2 separate regions of the Homo sapiens genome follow, and region 2 is linked to region 1. Evidence: fine-mapped expression QTL. Tissue or cell type: whole blood. Region 1 holds a variant in brackets; the other region holds the start of a gene. All regions are shown on one strand. Distances are between the middles of the regions.

Region 1 (2,758 bases):
AGCTAATTTTTGTATTATTAAAAAATATGATATGTTGGTCAGGCTGGTGTCAAACCCCTGACCTCAAGTGATCTGCCTGCCTCAGCCTCCCAAAGTGCTGGGATTACAGGCATGAGCCGCTGCACCCAGCCTTTTTTCCTTTTTTCTTTTTCTTTTCTTTCTTCTTCTTTTTTTTTTTTTTTTGAGAGGAGTTTCACTTTTGTTGCACAGGCTGAAGTACAATGTTGAGGTCTCAGCTCACTGCAACCTCTCCACTTCCCTGGTTCAAGTGATTCTCCTGCCTCAGCCTCCTAAGTAGCTGAGATTACAGGCATGCACCACCACGCCCAGCTAATTTTTTGTATTTCAGAGAGACGGGGTTTCACTGTGTTGGTCAGACTAGTCTCAAACTCCTGACCTCAGGTGTTCCGCCCACCTCAGCCTCCCAAAGTGCTGGGATAACAGGCATGTGCCAGCACCCCTGGCCTTTTATTTATTTATTTTTGAGACAATATCTCACTCTGTCACCCAGGTTGGAGTGCAGTGGTGTGATCACAGCTCACTGCAGTCTCGATCTCCCAAGGCTCGGGTGATCCTCCTCTCTCAATCCCCTTAGTAGCTGGAACTACAGGTGCATGCGACCATGTCCAGCTAATTTTTGTATATTTATTTATTTATTTTATTTTATTTTTGAGATGGAGTCTCACTCTATTGCCCAGGCTGGAGTGAGTGGCGCGATCTCGGCTCACTGCAACCTCTGCCTCCCAGGTTCAAGCGATTCTCCTGCCTTAGCCTCCTGAGTAGCTGATATTACAGGTGCACACCACCACACCCGGCTAATATTTGTATTTTTAGTAGAGACAAAGTTTCACCATGTTGGACAGGCTGGTCTCAAACTCCTGACCTCAAGTGATGTGCCTGCCTCAGTTTCCCAAAATAGTAGGATTACAGGCATGAGCCACTGTGCCTGGCAGCTATAAGCATCTTGATAGTACAGCTTATACCATTTATACTTATCTCTGGATCTCCCATCATACAGCAGAGTACCTTCTACATAACTGGCATTCTGAAAATATCTGTTAAATGGATGGGGAAAAAAGTCCACCCAAGTGAATGCACTCCATTAGAAGCCAAAGAGAGTCCCAGGCTTCAAATCAAATAATTCTAAATTCAAACCCATCTCTGGCTGGTCACACAGCACTAAGAGGGGCAGTCACTTGGATCTATCTGAGCCCCCTTTCTTTATCTGTAAAATAGGGCTTTATCTACTACTGTTTTAGAGTTGTTTCGAGGATTAATTCAGAGAAGACATGCTTAATATTGCAAATTACCTTCCTTTTAATTAAAAGCGTTCACAGCGAGGAAAAACAGGCAACTGACCACCACAAGCTGCACCGCTGGAGAGCATGGGAGGAGGTACACAGTGGGTTGTCATTAGTATGGACAATGCAT[T/C]TTTTTCAGCACTAAAGAAATTGGACAAAATAAGATGAAAAGAGAGTCTCAGCCCAAAGGCAGAAAGATACAATGGTCTTTATCTGCTAGTTATACAAACCAGCTGTTTAGATTGAAAAGATTTTGCTCAATCACTAAATATAATACATAAGTGATGGAAAAAAATAATGAATTTTTGTTTTTTACCATCTATATTGTCCTAGAGTTGTCGTAGAATTTTTTTTTCTTTTTTGAGATGGGGTCTCGCTATGTTGGTCTTGAACATGTGGTCCCAAGTGATTCTCCTGCCTTGCTCTCCCAAAATGCTGAGATTACAGGTGTGAACCACCATTCCCGGTATAATTTTTTTTTGATCAAGGAATACAAATACCACTGATGGGACTCAAGGTGATTTGATGTGGTACACAGGGAAATATTTATTATTTTAATTGTTATGCATTTATTATTTATGCTTTACAAAACATTGAGCTAGCATATCCAAACTGCAATATTACACATATTATTATTAAATATGCTTTAAAGTTTCAAAATATTTTTTAAATATGTGGATTTAAAGAAAAATATTATCATAATATGACTAATCAACACACCTGTGCCAAAAAACTGAACATAGTTCTAGGATCACGGAAGTGGTGGAAAAGACAGCTTTAACATGTGGGTCTTTTTTTTTTTTTTTTGAGACGGAGTCTCGCTCTGTCGCCCAGGCTGGAGTACAGTGGCGGGATCTCCGCTCACTGCAAGCTCCGCCTCCCGGGTTCACGCCATTCTCCTGCCTCAGTCTCCAGAGTAGCTGGGACTACAGGCGCCCGCCACCGTGCCCGGCTAATTTTTTGTATTTTTAGTAGAGACGGGGTTTCACCGTGCTAGCCAGGATGGTCTCGATCTCCTGACTTCGTGATCCACCCGCCTCGGCCTCCCAAAGTGCTGGGATTACAGGCGTGAGCCACCGCGCCCAGCCAACATGTGGGTCTTGAGCAACTATTTGATTTAAGAGAAGTTGTGACCCTGGGCCCCTCCATTTCTGTTTCCAAATGTCTTTTCAAAAGATTTACTTATTCTACCTACACACTCTATGCTGGCCCCCCCTGGATTTTATCCTGGTCCACCTGCATACCCTATACTCTCCCATCTCCGTGGCTTATTTGTGCTGAATTTTTTGCCTGGACACCCCTCCTCTTCCCTATCTGCCAGGCGCACCCCAAGCAGAACCAATCCCCTGTGCCCTCTGGGCTCCTAGGCGTCCTTGCACACCCCTCTTGCTAGTATCACCTTGGCACCTTGTATTACAGTTTCTTTCAGGGTGTGTCTCCTAGGCAATGTCTTGTTT
Region 2 (2,758 bases), 22 kb after region 1:
TTCTACAGTGCAATTTAGTCATCAAATATTACAGGCAGTGGCTCACGCCTGTAATCCCAGCACTTCGGGAGGCCGAGGCAGGCTGATCACTTGAGGTCAGGTGTTCGAGACCTGCCTGGCCAACATGGTGAAACCCCGTCTCCACGAAAAATACAAAAATTAGCCGGCGTCGTGGCGCACGCCTGTAATCCCCGCTACTCGGGAGGCTGACGCAGGAGAATCGCTTGGACGCAGGAGGCGGAGGTTGCACTGAGCTGAGATCGTGCCACTGCATTCCAGCTTGGGCGACACAGCGAGACTCTGTCTCACAAAAAAAAAAAAAAGAAAGAAAAAAAAAGGAAAGGGCTTCGAGATGGCTGGTTGAAAACTGTCTCCGCGCCTCACAGTCCCTCTTCTCTCCCTTATGCCTCTGAGTAAATCTTGAGCCCTTTCACTCCCTTTCTCGCTATTTAAAGTATCAAAACCATAACTCCCCATTCGTGCCTCTTTCCGCCTGTTCCCGGCGGAACACTCCTCTGGCCTTCTCTTGAGGCTCCCAGTTCACGCTGCACAGTGCTGGGCACTGCCTCCTCTCCACACCCCTAGCGCCCCCCACCCCTCAGCAGAAGGGCCCGCGAGGAACCGTGCGAGGTCAGGCCGAGCGCCGGCACCGCCACCGGCACTGGCGCTGAGCGACGAGAGCGGACTCCTGCGAGCGCAGAGAGGGAGGGGGAGATGGAGGGCTGGATGAGTCACGCGGATAATCGCGCTCTTCTCCAGCGCGCAGACAGCGCGGCAAGCGCGTATGCTAGCAGGGGTGCGGACGCGTGACCGTGCCGCCCGCTGACCCCACCAGTCTTCGCGGGCTTCGAACCCAGGGAGCCGACAATGGCGGTGAGTACGGCCCTGGTCGCGCAGCGACCGAACCTGCGCCCGGTTCCTCGCGCCCCGCGCTGGGGCGGACGCCGCCGCCGCCGCCGACACCACTGCCGCCGGCGTCAGCTCGGCTCCAGCCCGCCAGCTGCCTGGCTGGCGTCACGGCCCGGCCCAGCCCCGCCCGCGCCCCTCCTTCCCCTCCCCCGCCCCCACGTGCGCCGAGTTTGTTGATTTAGCTGCCATAGCAACGATGGAAGGGAGCCTCGGGGGGGGCGGAGAGAAGAAAGGGAGGGGCGGGGCATGGGAGAAGGCGGAGGAAAAGGCTGTAGCGAAGGAAGTTATAAGTAAGGAACGCGCGCCGGCGGCCGGCAGTTTCCCGACCAGAGAGAACGAACGTGTCTGCGGGCGCGCGGGGAGCAGAGGCGGTGGCGGGCGGCGGCGGCACCGGGAGCCGCCGAGTGACCCTCCCCCGCCCCTCTGGCCCCCCACCCTCCCACCCGCCCGTGGCCCGCGCCCATGGCCGCGCGCGCTCCACACAACTCACCGGAGTCCGCGCCTTGCGCCGCCGACCAGTTCGCAGCTCCGCGCCACGGCAGCCAGTCTCACCTGGCGGCACCGCCCGCCCACCGCCCCGGCCACAGCCCCTGCGCCCACGGCAGCACTCGAGGCGACCGCGACAGTGGTGGGGGACGCTGCTGAGTGGAAGAGAGCGCAGCCCGGCCACCGGACCTACTTACTCGCCTTGCTGATTGTCTATTTTTGCGTTTACAACTTTTCTAAGAACTTTTGTATACAAAGGAACTTTTTAAAAAAGACGCTTCCAAGTTATATTTAATCCAAAGAAGAAGGATCTCGGCCAATTTGGGGTTTTGGGTTTTGGCTTCGTTTCTTCTCTTCGTTGACTTTGGGGTTCAGGTGCCCCAGCTGCTTCGGGCTGCCGAGGACCTTCTGGGCCCCCACATTAATGAGGTAGGTGAGGCGCGCGGCGCTGGGAGCAGGGAGGGGTGAGGACCGGTGGGACGCGCCGGAACGACGGCCGAAAGCCGCCCCTGACTCTCCTGTCTCCGCTCCCTGCCTTGCTCGCAGGCAGCCACCTGGCGAGTCTGACATGGCTGTCAGCGACGCGCTGCTCCCATCTTTCTCCACGTTCGCGTCTGGCCCGGCGGGAAGGGAGAAGACACTGCGTCAAGCAGGTGCCCCGAATAACGTGAGTATCGCTCCGGGCCGCCGGGAACGCCCGGTGGGTTTTCGTGGGTGTGGTGGGGGCGGGCGGAGCCTTGGGGTCACCAAGAGCCACTGAACGAGGGTAAGGAGCGGCCACCGCGCGGACTCCGCAACCTTCCCGGGATAGCTTCCGTGTCCTTGGCTCAGCTGTGTATGCCCGTGGTGCGAGCACTGCGGAGCCGCCTGGGGCGCAAGCCGGGTCTTCACCAGTCCCCGGGCGCGCTGTCGGTAGGGCGGGCGCTCTCGGGCCACCGGGCGGGAGGTGGCCGCGTCCCCAGACACTGGCTGGGCCAGAGTGAGTTTAGCGCGTAGGCGGCCCCGTGGCGAGAGCGCACCGAGAGAGCCTCGGTGTGCCAATTCCGGGGACGTCCACGGGACCTGGAGGGGGAGGGACCAGCCGCGGCGCTCGCTCACACGCAATTGGGCAGACAGGACATAACACCCGCAATACAGACGCATCACCTCTTCTTCGACCCGGGAGTGGGCCGAGATTGCAGCGCTGGCGCCCTGGGTTCCCGGGTGCTTCCTGCCTGACCAGTCCCCATGTCTGGGCGGTGCAGTCGCGCGTGGCCCGCCAGCACGTCAGTATGTCGGGTGGCAACAGGGGACCACCACTGACAGGTCTCTCCCGCCCTGTCCCCGCAGCGCTGGCGGGAGGAGCTCTCCCACATGAAGCGAC

The links. PIP is the estimated chance that this variant, and not a neighbour inherited with it, causes the effect.
Region 2: KLF4 starts here. The variant in region 1 is fine-mapped to the expression of KLF4 in whole blood (TOPMed, PIP 0.94).

The regions. Positions count from the first base shown.
Region 1 is chr9:107,509,975-107,512,732 of GRCh38, reverse strand. The region is part of intron 1 of LOC105376206 (a long non-coding RNA gene); the gene reads right to left. Among named protein-coding and RNA genes, the nearest start is that of KLF4, 22 kb to the right of the region's middle. The variant T/C (reference allele first, on the strand shown) is at 1,432.
Region 2 is chr9:107,488,234-107,490,991 of GRCh38, reverse strand. It overlaps KLF4 (KLF transcription factor 4), which reads left to right and starts at 1,223. Exons shown (of 5, transcript NM_004235.6): 1 at 1,223-1,824; 2 at 1,942-2,062; 3 at 2,725-2,758. The coding sequence starts at 1,820. RefSeq lists silencers at 942-1,151, 1,511-1,710, 2,362-2,411.